3 separate regions of the Homo sapiens genome follow, and regions 1 and 2 are each reported to be linked to region 3. Evidence: microRNA targets listed by miRTarBase, many of them from high-throughput screens and not tested one by one. Region 3 holds a microRNA gene; each other region holds the end of a gene's coding sequence. Distances are from middle to middle.

What was found. The annotated mature microRNA hsa-miR-3127-3p reads UCCCCUUCUGCAGGCCUGCUGG and lies in region 3 at 3,340-3,361, opposite strand. An mRNA with a match to its seed (bases 2 to 7 or 8) in the 3' UTR can be bound and repressed. Matches are read on the target gene's strand: a 7mer-m8 pairs with bases 2 to 8, a 7mer-A1 pairs with bases 2 to 7 and ends in A, and an 8mer does both.
Region 1: the mRNA of REEP2 is a reported target of hsa-miR-3127-3p. Seed matches in the 3' UTR shown: 7mer-m8 at 453-459.
Region 2: miRTarBase lists METTL21A as a target of hsa-miR-3127-3p. The part of its 3' UTR that is shown has no 7-base or 8-base seed match.

The regions. Positions count from the first base shown.
Region 1 is chr5:138,445,457-138,451,949 of GRCh38, forward strand. REEP2 (receptor accessory protein 2) reads left to right here. Exons shown (of 8, transcript NM_001271803.2): 7 at 12-142; 8 at 227-1,509. The coding sequence ends at 295. Among named protein-coding and RNA genes, the nearest start is that of REEP2, 9.6 kb to the left of the region's middle. RefSeq lists enhancers at 4,390-4,449, 4,520-4,609.
Region 2 is chr2:207,608,429-207,615,205 of GRCh38, reverse strand. It overlaps METTL21A (methyltransferase 21A, HSPA lysine), which reads left to right. Exons shown (of 4, transcript NM_001127395.5): 4 at 1,763-2,467. The coding sequence ends at 2,160. Among named protein-coding and RNA genes, the nearest start is that of METTL21A, 14 kb to the left of the region's middle.
Region 3 is chr2:96,794,908-96,801,684 of GRCh38, reverse strand. MIR3127 (microRNA 3127) reads right to left here and starts at 3,407; the gene lies at 3,332-3,407. It overlaps CNNM4 (cyclin and CBS domain divalent metal cation transport mediator 4), which reads right to left. Exons shown (of 7, transcript NM_020184.4): 2 at 4,530-4,673; 3 at 4,038-4,172; 4 at 2,459-2,628; 5 at 2,037-2,133. RefSeq lists enhancers at 325-404, 645-974.

The DNA.
Region 1 (6,493 bases), not on the chromosome of region 3:
CCTGCACCCAGGAGATGACCCTGCCCTGAGTCTAAGGTCCAGCACAAACCCGGCAGATTCCCGGACAGAGGCTTCTGAGGATGACATGGGAGACAAAGCTCCCAAGAGGGCCAAACCCATCAAAAAAGCGCCCAAAGCTGAGGTGAGGGCACTGGCCAGAGCTTGGGGAAACAGGCAGGGGGTGGCGGCTCCAGGCTGAGCCCCATCTTCCTCCTTCTTTCCACAGCCACTGGCTTCCAAGACACTGAAGACCCGGCCCAAGAAGAAGACCTCTGGCGGGGGCGACTCAGCTTGAGCCCCTCCACCCCCGCAGGCTGCAGAGCAAGGATGAAGCCTCAGGAGGGGCCTCAGACCCAGCCCCTGCTCCACACTGTGCCAGTAGCCTAGGTGTCTCAGGCCCCTGGGCCCCGCAGATGGCCATTTCCGGTGCCTGCCCAGTGGCCACTCTTCTGGAAGGGGCTTGGAAAAGAGGAAGGAGGCCCAGCTGTGGGGGTTGAGGGTAGAGGGTGGACCAGAGGCTGAGGACTGAGCCACCCAAGGAGGTGGGGACTGCTCGGCCTCCACCGCTGTTCCGCTGCAGCCCCGCCCTGCCCCACCCACCCAGTGCCTTGCTGAAGCCCATAGCAATCCGCTTCTCAGAGGTCCTGTCGTGTTTCCACTGCTCGCCTTGGTTTGGGAGCAGGGAGGGGGAAGTCCTAGCCCAGATGGACCAAGGACGGGCCTGAAGGCACATGGGGGAAAGGGAGCACACGGGGAGGACGTTGGGGACCCTGGGTGGGGCCTCCAGGTGCAGCTGTGGATGGAAGACAGGGATTGGCCTGTGCTTCAGCGACCAGGATGGCCAGGCCAGAGCTGCAGCTGGGGGCTCTTTTCCTGGTCATTGGGTGGGGCTGAGTGCCACATGTTCCCACATTAAAAAGGGGGGTCCAGGGCTGTGTGAGTGTGTCTTTCTGGGTCTAGGGCTCGGGGTAGTTTGGGTCAAGGACTGTCCCTCCAGCAGTCGCCTCCTCCCACCCTGAGCCCCACAGTCATCTGGCCCTTTCCCTGCTCAACCCTCCATCCTAGGCTCTGAGCCTCAGAGGACCCAGCCCATGAGAGAACGGGGATCTGGGGGGCCTCTCACCTGCTCCTATGACCTTGCTCCCTTTTAGGTCACCCCATTGCCACCGTGCCCCTGGGCTGGACTCCCGTGCTCCTCAGGGCCCACCCCTGCTCTGTCTGGTACAGGCCCCTGCTGAGTGGGCCCCTCTCCTCTGCCCCTGGGGTCCATCCCCTCTTGCCCAGGGTCCCCATCCTGTACCAAGCAGACTGGGCCCTAAGACCCCTGGCAGAACCCAGCCTCTGCTCACACCCGCCCCAGCTTCTGCCACGGCTTCAGTCAGGGCCAGGAGGAACACGTGAAGGAGAAAGAGAAATGCAGGAGCCGCGGGGCTCCCGGTTCCTTGGGAAGAGGGTGCCCATTGGACCTTTGGCACTGGATGAGCCAATAAACCAAACTCTGGCACCTCATTTATTTTGGCCTCTGTGCTTTGTTCTTGCCACACCAGCTGACAGGTGGGAAGGACCTCAAGTGAGAAGCAGGGTTCAGCTGGGGGAGTGGGGAGGCCAGCCTGTGACTGACAGGAGCTCTGGTGCCCAGCTAAGAGATGGGCTTGAGGGGGCTCAGTCTGGGAAAATGGTTTTGGGACTCAAGATAAAACCAGAGGCCTAGGCTGGGCGCAGTGGCTCATGCCTGTAATCCCAGCACTTTGGGAGGCCGAGGCGGGCAGATCACGAGGTCAGGAGATCAAGACCATCCTGGCCAACATGGTGAAACCCCATCTCTACTAAAAATACAAAAATTAACCAGGCATGGTGGCGCGTGCCTGTAGTCCCAGCTACTTGGGAGGCTGAGGCAGGGGAATTGCTTGAACGTGGGAGGCAGAGATTGCAGTGAGCCAAGATCGTGCCACTGCACTCCAGCCTGGTGACAGAATAAGACTCCGTCTCAAACAAAACAAAAAACAAACAAAAACCACAGAGGCTTAGCTGGGTGTGGTGGCTCACACCTGTAATCCCAGCACTTTGGGAGGTGGAGGCAGGAGGATCCTTGAACTCAGGATTTTGAGACCAGCCTGGGCAACATGCGAAAATCACATCTGTATTTTTTTTTAGGGGGGGAAACTGAGTATTGCCAAGGCTGGAGTGCAGTGGCGCGATCTTGGCTCACGGCAACCTCTGCCTACTGGGTTCAAATGATTCTCATGCCTCAGCCTCCCAAGTAGCTGGAATTACAGTCATGCGCCACCATGCCCAGCTAATTTTTGTATTTTTAGTAGAGACTGGGTTTCACCATGTTGGCCAGGCTGGTCTCGAACTCCTGACCTCAAGTGATCTGCCCGCCTCGGCCTCCCAAAGTGCTGGGATTACAGGCGTGAGACACCGCGCCCAGCCATGTCTCTATTTAAAAAATAATAATAATAAATAAAAACCAGAGGCCTAAGAAGGGCCAGGGGCCCCAACCCCAAGGACTGTCTTTTCCCTCAGAATCTTACCCCAAGTCTTGAGTGGACCTTCTGGTATCCAACAGAAAGTGCTAGGTGTAGGCTCTGGGGGACAAAGATCCCAGTGAGGCCCCCAGGGGACAGAGGATAGGATATGGAGCTGTGGGGCAGGCCTCGGGGACTGTGCCTAGAAAGACCAAAGGGGGTTGAGCCAGAGAGGTTGAGCGAAGAAGCAGAGATGGGGAAGACAGGACAAGGGCTTGTGAAGAAACCAGCCCTGGGGACAGAGAGGGAACCAAGGGCTGAGACAAAGAGGCACAGCCTGTGTGGCACCAGGAAAGGCAGAGGTCCAGCCCTGACTACTGGGCTAGGTTGGAGGAAAGGAGGAGAAGGGAGCTGCAGGGCATGGGGTCCGAGCCCTGGGACGCAGAGCCAGAGCTCCAGGGGCCAAGAAGCACAACTGACTGGGGATGAGCCCCCGGGAAGCCGGAACCCAGGGGGAGGGAAAGGCTGGCAGAGGAGCAGAGGCAGGTACGGAGGAGAGACTAAGGAAAAGAGCCGTAAGGGAGGAAAAAGGGGATCAGAGAAATAGCTCAGCCTGTGGAAGGAAAATGAACGAAGCAGACCATGGGGTGGGTAGGGGGTATGAGTAGGACCCAGACCCAGGCTCTGGACCCCAAGTTTGGCAAAGCGCCCCTACACTAGGCTTTCCTCCTCCTTCCCTGGCATCACAGGGCATGTGCACCTTCCACACTTGAGCCAAGCTAGCCAAGAGCCCCCTGAAGTGAGGTCACAGTGGGGGATGTGAGGTGTCCCTTTTGTCTTTCCTTGGAATCCTCCAGTCAACCAGCCCTCTGAGGGGCATCACCTTCACCATCAGCCTCTCAGCAATTTTGGCTCATTTTTCCATCGGAAAGGAGAGGAAGCTACCACAGTAAAATTTAGGGGAGGGATTCATTCTAGAAAAGTCCCCAGAGAGTAAGATGCTGCAGTCCCACGCTAACAGCTACCATATGCCCAGGAAACCAGGTTAGGCGCTCTTTAACCTAAATCTCATTTGCTGCATACCACACACACACAAACACACACACTGGCTCACACTCAGGAGGAGCATGCTCACATCTACAGTGACTGGTGGCTAGGCAGGTCACATCCAGATTCTGCATTGTCAAGCTCTCCGTGCACATCAGGGGTTCCCTGTGTCCACAGGAACATGCTCAGATTTCCAAGCTCATTGGTTTGTTGCTATGGAAACATTCAGGCTTCTAGAACTCTGGGCACAGGGCCTGCCCCCTGTGGTGCAGAGGAGAGAAGAGATGGAGGGTGACAAGAAGAACGGGTGGAAAGGCTCCTGGGAAAGAGGCTGGCTGGTGGCACACATCTGGGCCTAGGTGACCCCTTGCTGTCCCCTCATTCCCTGGGACAATCTCCCCTCTCCCCTTTCCCCTCTGCCTCCGTAGATCTCTCCAAGCCAGGGTAGTGGGAAAGAGATGTCAGAAATAGGTGGATGGCCAGAGCTATGTGGAGGGTGCTCGATCACTGCCTGGGTCCCCAGGAGCCTTTGAGAGGTATTAGCTTTGGGTAGGGACTGGGGCAGGCTAGCGCTGGGTCCCATGCCCAGGCCTCCTTGGGATCGCTGGGCAGCCCTCCAGGCCTGAGGTACCTGACTATAACAGCCTCAGGTCTCTAGCTTCTTCAGCTGGCCCCCCCTCCCTTTCTTGTGGGTGCCCTACACCCAGAGAACCTGCTTAAAATGGGATTTCCAGGCTGTGACGTCAGAGGAAAGCCAGCAGCTCCATCCAGCCTCTGCCAGCTCTCCCTTGATCGGCAGAGCTGAGCCCAGCTTTGCTTGGCCTGGAGGGAGGTAGGGCGGGCACAGAAGGGAGGGCCTTGGGGGCTCTGAGCCATGGTCCCCATATCTGTGGCATCCAGAATGACAGGGAGAGGCTGTTTGCAGGCCCAAAGCCCCTCCTGGCTTCCCCACTATCTTCAATTTCCGCCAGTGCACGATCACCCCCCTCCCACATCCCCCCAGTTTCTCCCTCTCTGAGCTGGGTCAGGTCCGTCGGGAGGAGGAGGGCATCTCCTGTCCTTACCGGACAGCGGCTTTTGTGTGTGTCCTGCCTGAAACGGTGCCATATCCAGGCTGGAGGCGGCGAGGCGTGGGAGGGATGCCTGCGAGGATGGAAAAGCCCACTAGGTGGCGCAGCTGCCTCCCTATGTGGGATTCCCCGGCCCCGCGGACAATCCTCTCCCGCGGCCAGTAGGCTCCAGGTTTGGTGAGCAGAGTGCCTCATCCTCCGCTCCCTGGAGTTGGAGGTTCATGAAGAAAGCATTCTTGTGGGTGAACAGGACAGCTGTGGGTTCTCCAGCAGTCTCCCCCTAAGCCCAGTCTGTGTGCACACCTACTGCCCCAGGAGATGGTCAGACCTAGAAGAAGCCCCCCACTTGCAGTGAGGTTCCAGCACCCAGCAAGCACCCTCCCCCGAACAGATAAATTGCCAAGCTCACCCTGGGATGATTTTTTTTTTTTTTTTTTTGAGACAGAGTCTCGGAGCTCTGTCGCCCAGGCTGGAGTGCAGTGGCGCGATCTTGGCTTACTACAACCTACGCCTCCTGAGTTCACGAGATTCTCCTGCCTCAGTCTCCCAAGTGGCTGGGATTACAGGCACAGGCCACCATGCCTGGCTACTTTTTGCTTTTTTTTTTTTTTTTTTTTTTTTAATATGGAGTCTCGCTCTGTCGCCCAGGCTGGAGTGCAGTGGCGCGATCTCGGCTCGCTGCAAGCTCCACCTCCTGGGCTCACGCCATTCTCCTGCCTCAGCCTCCGGAGTAGCTGGGACTACAGACACCCGCCACAACGCCCGGATAATTTTTTGTATTTTTAGTGAAGACGGGGTTTCACCGTGTTAGCCAGGATGGTCTCAATCTCTTGACCTCGTGATCCGCCCGCCTCGGCCTCCCAAAGTGCTGGAATTACAGGCGTGAGCCACCGCGCCCGGCCTTTTTTTCCTTTTTAATAGAGATGGGATTTTGCCATGTTGGCCAGGCTGGTCTCGAACTCCTGGCCTCAAGTGATCCGCCCACCTCCCAAAGTGCTGGGATTAAAGACGTGAGCCACCGCACTTGGCCCCAACCTGGGCTTCTGAAATGGCATCTAGAGAGGCTGCTGGAGCTGAATTCAGGATCAAGAGGGGAGAGGGACCCCTGAGGCAGCAAGGGATGGGGACTGGGGCGGGGAGGTAGGAAGGAGAAGTTGGGTCCAGAGGCAGGGAAGCTCATATAGCTGTGACATTCCCTGGATATGGTCTCCCTGATGGCCACAGTGGCAGTCCCAGGCCTGCTCCAGGTGCCCCCTGACCCTTCCTGTATTTTCATCTGGGGTACTATGGAGTTGAAAAAGACAAAGTCAGGCCAGGTGTGACATGGTGGCAGACACCTGTAATCCCAGCTACTCGGAGGCTGAGGCAGGAGAATCGCTTGAACCTGGGAGGGGGAGGTTGCAGTGAGCTGAGATTGCGCCATTACACTCCAGCCCAGGCGACGATGTGAGACTCCATCTCAAAAAAAAAAGAAAAGTAAAAAATAAAAGAAAAAGACAAAGTCCCTAGTCTCCACATCCTGGAATCCCATAGTATTCTTGCAGGGGCTGGGGGTGAGGCTCCTCAATGATCTACCTTTCCCTGACCTTTTTCCCAAGTTGACCCTACCAGCCCTGCATCCCCTATGAATTACCCTCTCCTTTTGTCCCAGCCAGAAAAGTGATCAATAAATAATGCTGCTTGAAATATTAATGGTGAGTTTTACACCAGCATCCCTTAACTGTGTGTGCCTGTCATTTTCCTGATAGGGAAATGCATGGTCCTCCAGACAGCTCATTCCTGTCTTGGCCAATAGAGGGTCTTTCTTTGCCAAGACTTCACCCCATTCCCATCTCAGCCAGAATCATGATTCAGTCCCATCAACTAAGAAAAGGAAGCGTCCCCCAGAGATCACCTCAGTTAGCACCT
Region 2 (6,777 bases), 110 Mb from region 3:
CTACTCGGCCTGGCTGTCTGCAATTTTTATTTTCAGAAAAGATGAAAACTGTCATTGAAATCTATCCATTGGGCAACACACTGTCTAGCAACGAATGGTCAAAGTGGTAGGTTCAGGCTTGTAAAATCTAACAACTTGAGCATTTTCATCAGTATCTCATAGTAGGACTGTAAATGTCAAATTGAATTACTGCCCTAACTTATGTGTCAAGATAAGAAACACTGAGTATCAGCTGCCACTGAAATAGTGCTTATTGCAACTAGTCTGGAATCCTGTGGGAAGATTACCTATGAAGATTACAAACTGAAGAAGGATGCAAATGGAAAGAATTTTATGAAAGATTGAAACATAATTTTAAATTTCAGAATTTCTGGGGTCAGAAGTAAAGAGTACTACACATATTATATCTTTCCTACAACGTAGATGAGGTGGATCCGACCTGACCTTATGTGCTTGCTCCACCTTAAGGTCTTCTCTTACCCACATTGGTTCAAAAAAAAGGATCTTTTTGTCAACAACCCATAAGAAACAGTTTAGTTTTTCTACACTGTGTGTAGAAACTTAGCATTAAGAACAAGCATTTTAACCTACATTAATAAAATTAAGTAATTTTTAAGCTTACAATTTTTCAAGAAATACGTAAAACATGTAAGTTGGCTGCTTCATAACAGCCTAAGGAGAAGTGGACTGGGATTTCTTAGTAGCCAATTTATTTCTTCCATGATTCTTTTTTAAACTGTAACCTTACAAAACAGCCTTTCTCTGTTTTTGGTATCTTGTCATCTTTGCAATAATAGTCTGCTCCCAGATATTTTTTTTTTTTTTGAGACTGGGTGTTGCTCTGTTGCCCAGGCACAATAACAGTTCACTGCAGCCTCGATCTCCCATACTCACATGATATCCCACCTCCGCCTCCTGAGTAGTTAAGACCACAGGTGTGCACTGTGCTTAATTAAAAAAAATTATTTGTAGAGATGGAGTCTCCCTGTGTTACCCAGGCTGGTCTTGAACTCCTGGGCTCAAGGGCTTCTCCCACCTCAGCCTCCCTAAGTGCTGGGATTACAGGCATGAGCCACTGTACCTGGCCTGCTCCCAGATATTTCATTCTTGGATTCCATTTTAGCCTGCGGCCAACTGACTTAAAGATAATGACCCAATGAATAAAGTATGGGCCAGCTCTGTTGGCAGAATTCAGAAGCATCAGCCGTGTCACTGGTTAATTCTACTTTTTTTTGAGATGGAGTTTTGCTCTTGTCACCCAGGCTGGAGTGCAGTGGCGAGATCTCAGCTCACTGCAACCTCTGCCTCCCAGGTTTAAGTGATTCCCCTGCCTCAGCCTCCCGAGTAGCTGGGATTACAGGTGCCCGCCACCATGCCTGGCTAATTTTGTATTTTTAGTTGGCCATGTTGGCCAGGCTGGTCTCCAACTCCTGACCTCAGGTGATCCACCCGCTTTGGCCTCCCAAAGTGCTGGGATTAAAGGCATGAGCCACCACACCCAGCCAATTCTGCAATTTATAGGCACAATTTTAGCAAATAGCAGGTATGTCATAGAGGCAAATCAAGAGTCACTTCTACCAGTAGTTAATGCAAAAGGAGCTGTGAGTCATTTTTCTATTGCAGCTGTCCATGAAAGGTGTGATTGATATTATGCATATCAGATGCAATATTTAAGAGACACTCTACATTTAACTTGACCCCCTCTCTACCTAACAGAATTGTACTGATGTACACATCACTTTTTCTTTGTTCCACATTGTAGGTGCTCATGTGACTATCACGGATCGAAAAGTAGCATTAGAATTTCTTAAATCAAACGTTCAAGCCAACTTACCTCCTCATATCCAAACTAAAACTGTTGTTAAGGAGCTGACTTGGGGACAAAATTTGGGGAGTTTTTCTCCTGGAGAATTTGACCTGATACTTGGTGCTGATATCATATATTTAGAAGAAACATTCACAGATCTTCTTCAGACACTGGAACATCTCTGTAGCAATCACTCTGTGATTCTTTTAGCATGCCGAATTCGCTATGAACGGGATAACAACTTCTTAGCAATGCTGGAGAGGCAATTTACTGTGAGAAAGGTTCACTACGATCCTGAAAAAGATGTACATATTTACGAAGCACAGAAGAGAAACCAGAAGGAGGACTTATAATTGGCTATAATTTATAAGAATGTTGTCATTGAGTGTGTCACTTAAGGTCTTAGACTGCAAATCTAACCATATTTAATGAAATGTCTTACTGTACAAAAAGTCTAAGCCAAAGGTTCTCAGGGGAGAAAGCACATGTGCAGTTTTAAAACAAAGCAGTGCTTTGTCCCATTGCTGTGATTTTTAGTCAGACTTTACTCAGTCTGAAATGCAATTAACATTAAAGGATTAAGTGTGAGATTTCGATTTATGCTATTTGTGTATCCCATACTCCTCCCTTTTAATAAACAGTTTCCACTGATGATATGAAGGGCCGGTATAAAGAAGTCTTTAAATGAGTAAGCTTTCTTGGTAAGATTAAATCTTACAAATTATTTTTAAAACCTTGTGATATATACAATGTTTAGCTGAGTTTTCTAATTTTCTGGATGTAAAACAAAAGGTTTAACCTATACATTCCTTGAGCTGTTAGTGCTATTTAAATCTTTTGCCCTGTTTAGGTCCTAAACACTTTTAGTTGAGTAGGATATGAGCTTTTTTGGGTCTCATATCATGCTTTTTGCCTTAATTTCAGGTATATATATATATATAAATAAAGGAATTAAGTAAAAATAAAATTTCAGTTACTTTTTAAAAGCACCTGAAATCTGGCCGGATGCGGTGGCTCATGCCTGTAATCCCACCACTTTGGGAGGCCGAGGCGGGCAGATCACCTGAGGTCAGGAGTTCAAGACCAGCCTGGCCAACATGGTGAAACCCCATCTCTACTAAAAATACAAAAATTAGCCGGGCGTGGTGTCAGGCGCCTGTAATCCCAGCTACTCAGGAGGCTGAGGCAGGAGAATCGCTTGAACCTGGGAGGCAGAGGTTGCAGTGAGCTGAGATTGCACCATTGTACTCCAGCCTGGGGGACAAGAGCGAGACTCCATCTCAAAAAAAAAAAAAAAAAAAAAAAAAAAAAGCACCTGAAATCTTGAATAGGTTTTCTTTTTTTTTTTTTTTTTTTAATTAATTTATTTTTTTTTTATTGATCATTCTTGGGTGTTTCTCGCAGAGGGGGATTTGGCAGGGTCATAGGACAATAGTGGAGGGAAGGTCAGCAGATAAACAAGTGAACAAAGGTCTCTGGTTTTCCTAGGCAGAGGACCCTGCGGCCTTGGCCTTCCGCAGTGTTTGTGTCCCTGGGTACTTAAGATTAGGGAGTGGTGATGACTCTTAACGAGCATGCTGCCTTCAAGCATCTGTTTAACAAAGCACATCTTGCACCGCCCTTAATCCATTTAACCCTGAGTGGACACAGCACATGTTTCAGAGAGCACAGGGTTGGGGATAAGGTCACAGATCAACAGGATCCCAAGGCAGAAGAATTTTTCTTAGTACAGAACAAAATGAAAAGTCTCCCATGTCTACTTCTATCCACACAGACCCGGCAACCATCCGATTTCTCAATTTTTTCCCCACCCTTCCCGCCTTTCTATTCCACAAAACCGCCATTGTCATCGTGGCCCATCCCCAATGAGCCGCTGGGCACACCTCCCAGACGGGGTCGTGGCCGGGCAGAGGGGCTCCTCACTTCCCAGTAGGGGCGGCCGGGCAGAAGCGCCCCTCACCTCCCGGATGGGGCGGCTGGCCGGGCGGGGGGCTGACCCCCCCACCACCCTCCCGGACGGGGCGGCTGGCCAGGCAGAGGGGCTCCTCACTTCCCAGTAGGGACGGCCGGGCAGACGCGCCCCTCACCTCCTGGATAGGGCGGCTGGCTGGGCGGGGGGCTGTCCCCCCCACCTCCCTCCCGGACGGGGCGGCTGGCCGGGCAGAGGGGTCCTCACTTCCCAGTAGGGGCGGCCGGGCAGAGGCGCCCCTCACCTCCCGGACGGGGCGGCCGGCCGGAAGGGGGGCTGACCCCCCCCACCTCCCTCCCGGACCGGGCGGCTGGCCGACCCCCCCCCCCCCCCCCGCCTCCCTCCCGGACGGGGCGGCTGGCCGGGCAGAGGGGCTCCTCACTTTCCAGTAGGGGCGGCCGGGCAGAGGCGCCCCTCACCTCCCGGACGGGGCGACTGGCCAGGCGGGGGGCTGACCCCCCCACCTCCCTCCCGGATGGGGCAGCTGGCCAGGTGGGAGGATGACCCCCCCACCTCCCTCCCGGGCGGGGCGGCTGGCCGGGCAGAGGGGCTCCTCACTTCCCAGTAGGGGCGGCCGGGCAGAGGCGCCCCTCACCTCCCGGATGGGGCGGCTGGCCAGGCGGGGGGCTGATCCCCCCACCTCCCTCCCGGACGGGGCGGCTGGCCAGGCAGAGGGGCTCCTCACTTCCCAGTAGGGGCGGCCGGGCAGAGGAGCCCCTCACCTCCCGGACGGGGCGGCTGGCCGGGCGGGGGGCTGACCCCCCCCACCTCCCTCCCGGACGGGGTGGCTGCTGGGCGGAGACGCTCCTCACTTCCCAGACGGGGTGGTTGCCGGACGGAGGGGCTCCTCACTTCTCAGACGGGGCGGTTGCCAGGCAGAGGGTTTCCTCACTTCTCAGACGGAGCGGCCGGGCAGAGACGCTCCCCACCTCCCAGACAGGGCTGCGGCCCAGCAGAGGCGCTCCTCACATCCCAGACAGGGCGGCGGGGCAGAGGTGCTCCCCACATCTCAGACGATGGGCGGCCGGGCAGAGACGCTCCTCACTTCCTAGATGGGATGGCGGCGGGGAAGAGGCGCTCCTCGCTTCCCAGATGGGATGGCGGCCGGGCAGAGACGCTCCTCACTTTCCAGACTGGGCAGCCAGGCAGAGGGGCTCCTCACATCCCAGACGATGGGTGGCCAAGCAGAGACGCTCCTCACTTCCCAGACGGGGTGGCGGCCAGGCAGAGGCTGCAATCTCGGCTCTCCGGGAGGCCAAGGCAGGCGGCTGGGAGGTGGTTGCAGCGAGCCGAGATCACGCCACTGCACTCCAGCCTGGGCACCATTGAGCACTGAGTGAACGAGACTCCATCTGCAATCCCGGCACCTCGGGAGGCCGAGGCTGGCGGATCACTCGCGGCTAGGAGCTGGAGACCAGCCCGGCCAACACAGCGAAACCCCGTCTCCACCAAAAAAAACCGAAAACCAGTCAGGCGTGGCGGTGCGCGCCTGCAATCGCAGGCACTCGGCAGGCTGAGGCAGGAGAATCAGGCAGGGAGGTTGCAGTGAGCCGAGATGGCAGCAGTACCGTCCAGCCTTGGCTCGGCATCAGAGGGAGACCGTGGAGGGAGAGGGAGAGGGAGAGGGAGAGGGAGGGGGAGGGAGAGGGAGAGGGAGGGAATAGGTTTTCTATTTCAAGTCAAGAGCTGAGGTTTTCCCCTTCTGTTTTACCCTTGCTCAAATGTCTTAATGCAGTTCTTTCCCAAGCTTTCCCTGCTTCCTTAACAACGCATAGGATGACATTAAAAGTTTTAAATCTCATCCCTGCCTGAGAGGTTAGCTTCCTACATATAAGCTCCTTTTGTATTGGACTTGTAATTGCTCATTCAGTGGTAGTATTGCCCTGTAGAGTGTAAGCTCCTTGAGGGCCAAGAATGCTTCTGCCTCTTCCATTGTTGCTTCCCCAGTACCTTCTGTATATTTCATAACCAAATAATGAAAAAGATACATTCCATTTAAAGGGCATTGACTTTGGGTTAAATGATTGTTATATTGTTTTAGGATTATCTATGATACACTTTGACATCTCACACACACACATGAACTTTTCTTTTTACAATGCAAAAGTTTAAACAATAGCTTAAATTTAGACTGCAAGAATATTATAATCTCAATATGGTATTTGGTACTAGAGATAGATTTCTTTTATAAAATCTTAAAAACAGGACGTTCTCTTCCTTTTGAACCTTTATCCCAGAGGTGAAAATATCCAATATGTTGTTTTCTGCATATATTGAAGTAGTAGTTTCACTTTAATAAAGATGGATTAAAAGTTGTGAGCATTCTGTGATATACCAGTTCAACACAATTCTAATACACATGAAATGGAAATGTCCATAGCTTACTGAATCCATAAAATGTCAGTACTGCACCATGAATATGAAAGATTGTTTAAAACAAAATAAAGCCTGGCAGTATCACCAACACCATAATGACAAGCCAGTCCCACTTAGGTATGTTATTGGGAATGCATATTCGCTCTGTCACCCAGGCTGGAGTGCGGGGCACGATCTCAGCTCACTGCAAGCTCCGCCTCCCGTATTCACGCCATTCTCCTGGCTCAGCCTCCCGAGTAGCTGGGACTACAGGTGCCTGCCACCACGGTCCGGCTAATTTTTTGTATTTTTAATAGAGATGGGGTTTCACCGTGTTAGCCAGGGTGGTCTCGATCTCTTCATGATCCACCTGTCTCAGCCTCCCAATGTGCTGGGATTACAGGCGTGAGCCACCGCGCCCGGCAGAGTTCAGTTTCTTTAAGATTCATTAACTTTGGAGATGGAAGTTAACGTGGATGGGGCAGGGTGGGTTAGAGGTGGGGAGCTTCAATAATATCCCTGGGTGATCTACCAAATGAGGTAAGCTGTTATTGGGTTGTTTTCTGTTTTCATAAAACATTAAGAATCAGAAAAATTTGAAGGCAGCTTTTTTCCCTTGCCCTACAAATTAGAAGCACAGGCAAGA
Region 3 (6,777 bases):
GTGTGGTCTCTGTGTGTGTGTGTGTGTGGTCTCTCTGCATGTGTGTGGTCTCTCTGCGTGTGGTCTCTGTGTGTGGTCTCTGTGTGTGTGGTCTCTCTGTGTGTGTGCTATCTCTGTGTGTGGTCTCTGTGTGTGTGTGGTCTCTCTGTGTGTGTGCTATCTCTGTGTGTGGTCTCTCTCTGTGTGTGGTCTCTGTGTGTGTGTGGTCTCTCTCTGTGTGTGCGGTCTCTCTGCATGTGGTCTCTCACTGTGTGTGTCTCTGCGTGTATCTATGGCTATGTGTATCTGTATGTGTATCTCTCTGTGTGTCTCTGTGTGTATGTGTCTATGAGTGTGTGATCTCAAGCACCAAGAGATCTTTGGGGGCCCCTTCTAGAGCTGAGGCAGCAAAGCTGCCTAGAAATTGGGCCCCAGCCAAGCAGAGCCACTGAGGTCTGGCGGCCCACATTGAGCAGGCGGGGGTCCGGGTCCATGTGGGGAGGTTAATGCAGCTGCAGTGTGCAGGCACAGGCAGCAGGTGGCAGCGTGACCCTCAGCTGTGCCACGTTACCTGTGAGCCAGCAGAGCAGGGAGTTCCGCTTGCCAGGCGGACACCCGACCTGGACTGAAGGCACTGGAGCAAAAGAGAAGGTCAGTGATGGGCGCAGTCAGGAGACAGGACACGGAACCACAGGCACAGGACAGAGGCAGACCTGACGGGGCCAGGCTGCTTTGGGCAGAGATGGGCCCAGTGGAGAAAGGGACATGGCTCTGCTGGGAAGGGTGCTCAGGGCACAGCGGTGAGCCCTGTGCGGAGACAGGCAGAAGCTGGCTGAGTGTGCCCAGTCATCTCCCCTCTCTTCTGGCCACACCAAGTGGGAACAGAGAGACTATGGGTCAACGGACAGAGCCTGGGCCCTAACCGGGCCTCTGAGGCTTCACTGCACAAACAGTGCCTGGGGGAAGCCTCCCGTGCCTGCCCGCCCTTCTGAATGAGATTTCCTCAAACTGAACAGAGAACAGCTGCTCTTGGAGGCACAGGAAGTCATCCCCAGGCCTGAGGCATCTGATAGGGTTAACCTGCTCAGAGCCCCGCTCTGGGGCCCTGTCTGTCCCCTGCCCAGGGAGCCTGCCATGCCCCACTCATCTGGTGGAGGGGCCGAGGACATGGTGGATAAGCCAAGCTGGGTGTCAGTATTCATGGGTGCCCTACCCCCGTTCCCCCTCGGGGTCCTTTTTGTCAAAGGACAGTGAGAGGCACAGCACAGAGGTTCTCTGGGAGCTGCAGCTCGTACCCCACTGGCGTGGCCTGTTCTCCAGCACCAAAGTGGACTTTCTCTCTCTACCCTGCAGCAACCTCGCCCCAGGACCGAAGCCTGGAGAGGAGCGAGGAGATGAGCTGGCGAGACCTGGGCCTGCGGGGCCTTGTCTGTGGGGCTCTGCGGGGAAAGCCTGAGCCACTCAGCACAGGAGAGGGCACTGGGGCGGCCAGAGTGGCGCATCCCCGGACCTTCCATAACACCTCTCGGAGGGTGCCCAGTCTCCCTTCTGTCTGTCCCCAAGGCCCTTTATTCCATCGGAGCTGACCTCTAACCAAAACCCAGTAGCCGCGTCCTCCGAAAAGCCAAACCCATCTGCAGCCTGCCCTGGCAAACAGGCCCTGGCCTGGCTCCTGACCCCAGTCACTTTGGATGCTCAGACTCCCCTCCTGTCCTCAGGAGCAGGGCCCTGGGCCTTCCTCCCCACAGGCCTCCTCTCCAAGCAGGCTGGTCTCCTCACAACCTCTGGACATGCCCTCCGCTGCCTCCAGGCCTTTACTCTAAAATCCCTCACTCCTCTTTTCCCCTCCAGCTTCTGGACCCCATCCAAAGTGGCAGCTCCCTCTGCTCTTCCACACCACCCGCTCCAGGCCCTGGCGGCTCCCGCCTCACCAGCCTCCCTCTGCCCCAGCCAGCTGGCTATGAGCTCTCGGGCCCATGCTCAGTTCTGGTGTCGGTCCATGGCTCCCCAGCTGCAGGGGGGCCAAAGGGCAGCAAAGACCATGCCCAACAACTCACCGGAGGGGACCGAGGTCAGGGCCATAGTCCCATAGTAGGAGAAGGCGCCCGTCTCAAACTTCATGTTCTCCTTCCCTGCCTCCACCTCCACCTTCCCCTGAAAAAACACAGGGCTGGAGTTAGAGACCAAGTGAGGGAGGAAACAAAGGATGAGGCAGGATGGGGAGTGAGGAACAAGGGACAGTGGGGCAGGAGGAAGGGCCGGTACTGGAGCCCTGGAGAGCTCAGGGGCCTGACCTGTGAGATCAAGAGTGGCCTCTCAGGGAGAGGATGGCCACGTGGGGCAGGCGGGGCTCAAGGGCAGGCAGCAGGCTCCCCAGGCAGGGAAGCCATGCACCTCCGCAGCAGGTGGGAGAGAGGGCCTGGGGGTTGCTGCAGTGCCAGGGGGAGCAGGTGGCAGGCCCAGGGCTGAGCGGGCTCACCTGCAGGATGAGGATGAAGTAGTCGGCCGGCTTATTTCGGGTGTACAGGTAATGGCGGGCGTAGTACTTATTGTGCTCGTCAAACTTGAGTTCCTGAATGACATCTGGGTACTTGAGTAGCCGCAGCAGGATCTTCTCTGATATCAGGGAGGGGCTAAACTGAGAGACCTCTGTAGGAGGAGAGAGAAGAGACCTCACACGGGGCTGGCCAGGTGGCCCTAAAGCTCGATCACTGCTGTGCCTCCACCCCAACCACAGCAGCCACGCTGTGCTCAGACGACTCCCGCCCTGCTCGGCCGGCCCTCGTTCTGCACCTCCCTGGGGAGGGAGCACGCTTGGCTTCTGACTGGTTGGATACAAGGCTGCCTGCCTGCCTGGGCTTGAACAGTGGCTCCTGCAAGAACAGCACATGACCTTGGGCAAATTACTTAACCTGCATCTCAGTTTCCTCATCTGTAATATGGGGGTAAAAGCTTCACAGGGTGGTTGTGAGGGTGAATGGGATAGCACATGGACAGCACTTAGTATATATGTGCTGTCCATATATACTAAAATATATAGACTATAATTATTGCATCAGCATCAATATCCCACAGGAAAAATAATGGAGAGGGAATTGCCACCCCTTTAGCAAGTAAGGGGTGGGAAGGAAGATGAATTGGGCCAGGGGAAGAGGGGGACAGAGCGGGCAGAGCAGAACCTGTCACCCAAGTCCCCAGTGGAGCTTTGAATCAGGGCTGAAAAGAGAGAAATGTCTCTGAACTAGAAGTGAATTCCTGCGGGAACCAGCACACGTCTGCAAAGGGGAGAGCTGGAGAGTAAGAGCAGAGCTGGATGCAAGCTCCTCAGAGTGGGTGAGCACACGAGGGGTCCAGCCACACCCAGCAGGCCTGCAGAAGGGGAAGCGTCCCTTCTCCTTCCCATTCCACAAGCCCTGATGGGCCTGGCCAGCCTAGGGGCCCACCTCAGTGGTTATTTTCTTTTTTGTTATTTTTGAGACAGAATCTTGTTCTGTGGCCCAGGCTGAGTGCAGTGGTGCATTCACAACTTACTGCAGCTTCAAACTCCTGGGCTCAAGCGGTCCTCCCACATCAGCCTCCTGAGTAGCTGGGACCACAGACATGCAACTGTCCCACCTCATAGCCTCCCAAGTAGCTGGGACTACAGGAGGGCACCACCATGCCTGGCTTTTGTATTTTTTGTAGAGATGGGGTCTCGCCATGTTGCTCAGGCTGGTCTCGAACTCCTGGGCTCATGCAATCCTCCTGCCTCGGCCTCCCAAAGTGCTGGGATTACAGGTATAAGCCATAGTGCCTAGTCATTATTTCCCAAACTATTAAATATAGTAACTTGGATGCTTCCTAGAAGTTTGCAGTAGCCGCCCATTAATGGCAAATGAATCGCAGGGAGATCCCCAGGGGTGGAGCAGATACCCGGCCCCTTCCAGGGGTGGCTGTGTTGTCTCTGCACCCCTCACCTGCTGCAGCCCTCGTCCTATGGGGGGAAAGCAGCCGGAAACCCAGGACTTCTCCCCCGTGACCGTATTTCCACCAAGACCGGAAGGTCCTCCTCATGCTACCTGTGGCTAGGAAGCGATGAGCGGCCAGGAGGAGCTGCGGGGAGATTTTCACTTTGAGCTCATTGTCCGCATCCTTGAAGGCAGAGAAGTCACGCTTGTTCTTCTCAGACACCCGCTTCCGGCTTCGGTTGTCAGCTGCCGGAAGAAGAGCGTGGAATTGAGAACACAGACCCCTGAGGACTTAGGAAGAGACTGGAACCCGCCCCGCAGCTCCTGCTCTCCAGCCCCTAGTCCCACGCAGGAGCAGCAGGCTCTGGCTGGCAGGGTCCTGGGCTGACGCCGAGGCACAAAGGCCGAGGGTGAAGGCAGCCTCCGGGCACTGCTCTCAGCAACCTGCTCCCTGCTCACCCCGGCCAGTGCAGGGCACCCAGCCACTGGGCCTCTGGATGCTAGGCCTCCTGTGTCCCTGCACTATGGCCCTTCCAGCTAGGGACACCAAGTTTCGATCCAAGCAGGAAAGGGGTCCTGGGCCCTGTGGAAGGCTGGACTCACTGTACATGTCGGACTCGTCCAGGATCTCCGACTTGATGATCTCCTCGATCACGTCCTCCAGGGTGACCAGGCCCAGGACCTCGTAGAAGGGGTCACCCTCACCCTCGTTGTTTACCTTCTGCACGATGGCCAGGTGGGACTTCCCTGTGGGACAATGCAGCAAGTCAGACAAGAGCCCAGAGGCCAGTCATGAGACTCCCTCAACCAAAACATTAACTCTAGACGTAGGGTCATAAGTCACCAGGATGGGGTCATGGTGGTTTTTATCTTTTCCATCTTTCCTGACGTTTCTACTGCAAACAGACATTGCTTTTATGAAAAGGAAAACTAAAAGTAATTTTTAAAAGCATGTCGTTAAGGACCACTTTTTTGTTTTTCTCTGTTTTTGTGGAGGAAGGACAGGGTCTAGCTCTGTTACCCAGGCTGGAGTGCAGTGGCGCAATCATAGCTCACTGCAGCCGCCAACTTCTGGGCTCAAGAGATCCTCCCACCTCAGCCTCCCGAGTAGCTGAGACCACAGGTGTGCTCCACCATGCCTGGCTAACTCTTTTATTTTTTGTAGAGATGGATCTCGCTATGTTGCTCAAGCTGGTCTCAAACTCCTGGGCTCAAGCAGTCCTCCCATCTCAGCCTCCCAAAGTGCTGGGAATACAGGAATGAGCCACCACGCCAGGCCAGGACTACTTGTTTAAATCGGATAAAAATGGCAATGCTGGGAGCAATGGCTCACATCTGTAATCCCAGCACCTTGGACGGGCTGAAGCGGGCAGATTGCTTGAGGCCAGGAGTTTGAGACCAGCCTGGCCAACACGGTAAAACCCCATCTCTACTAAAAATACAAAAATCAGCTAGGTGTGGTAGTACACACCTGTAGTCCCAGCTACTCGGAAGGCTGAGGCAGGAGAATTGCTTGAACCCGGGAGGCAGAGGTTGCAGTGAGCCGAGATCACGCCACTGCACTCCAGCCTGGGCAACAGAGCAAGACTCTGTCTCAAAAAAAAAAAAAAAAAAAAAAAAAAAAAAAGACCCTGTCTGGTATCACTTATCAGGGGCTTCTGGAACTCTTGGGGAGGGGAAAGACCCAAACTGACAAGGGCACAGAGAGGCCGAGCACTGTGATTAGGTGGGGCAGAGACTACAATTAGAGAGGGGCCACCCCCTCAACCCAAAGTGAGGGAAGGAGGCTGGCATGGGGCAGGACCCTCCACAGAAACCCTGTGGGGTGGTGGGTCTTCCCAGACCCCTTTTTGAAGGCCACACCCTGTTCTTATGGCCCCAGCCCCATGAGTGGCAAGAGGGTCCAGCCAAGAAGGGCTAGGTCCACAGTCTAGGTGGAATGAGTCCTGTGTGCCATACCCCACTCGCAGGAACACAGGTTTGGAGCAGCCTAGGAAGAAAGGCCCCCGGAAATCTGGGAAGGTCAAGTCAGGGTCTTCTGCATGGCTTCCCCTTCACAATCCAAGGGCCTCGCTCTAGGGACTAAAGAACTCATCCTAAATACCCTCGGTGGAGGATGTTTTCCAGGTCTTTAAGGCCACAGAAAATCCCCCAGCCCAAGATGGGCTGTTAAGAACTTCTAAGGGCCTCTTAGGGAGAGCAGAGAGAATGTGAGGTCTCATGACTAAAGTAAAAATTCTCACAATACACCCCATGTGATGGGGGGGGGGGTACTGCATTGTGAAAGTTTTTCACACACATGCCAGGGGCTATGATATATGTATTTCCCACTACAGGTTCTGGTCAAAAAACATTTAGCGTCTTGCTAGACAAAGCCATGGCTGGACTCGATTGAAAATACCCCAGTATCTTCCTAGAGATGAGCCAACAAGTTCAAGAGATCTGTGAGGCCCTCCAGCAGGGCGGCAGCGGGCCAGGCCGGGACCCTGGGGTCCGCCCCCAGGCCTCTGTGCCTGCTGGAGGCTGTCCATACAGGAGTGCCCTCCAGAAAGACAGTGCCTGGAAGGGCCTGGGCATCTAGCTAAACCATGTCACCACATGGGGATGGGAATTAAAGCAAGGCAGCTTTGACAGGCTGAGTATCCCTTATTCCTCACTGGGGATCAGAAGTGTTTCAGATTTCAGATTTTTTTGGATTTTGGAATATTTGCAGAATACACGCCATTGGGCATCCCAAATCTGAAAATCTGAACTACAAAATGCTCCAATGAGCATTTCTTTTGAGCATCATGTTGGTACTCAAAAAGTTTTGGATTTTGGAGCATTTGGGATTTTGGATTTTTGGATTCGG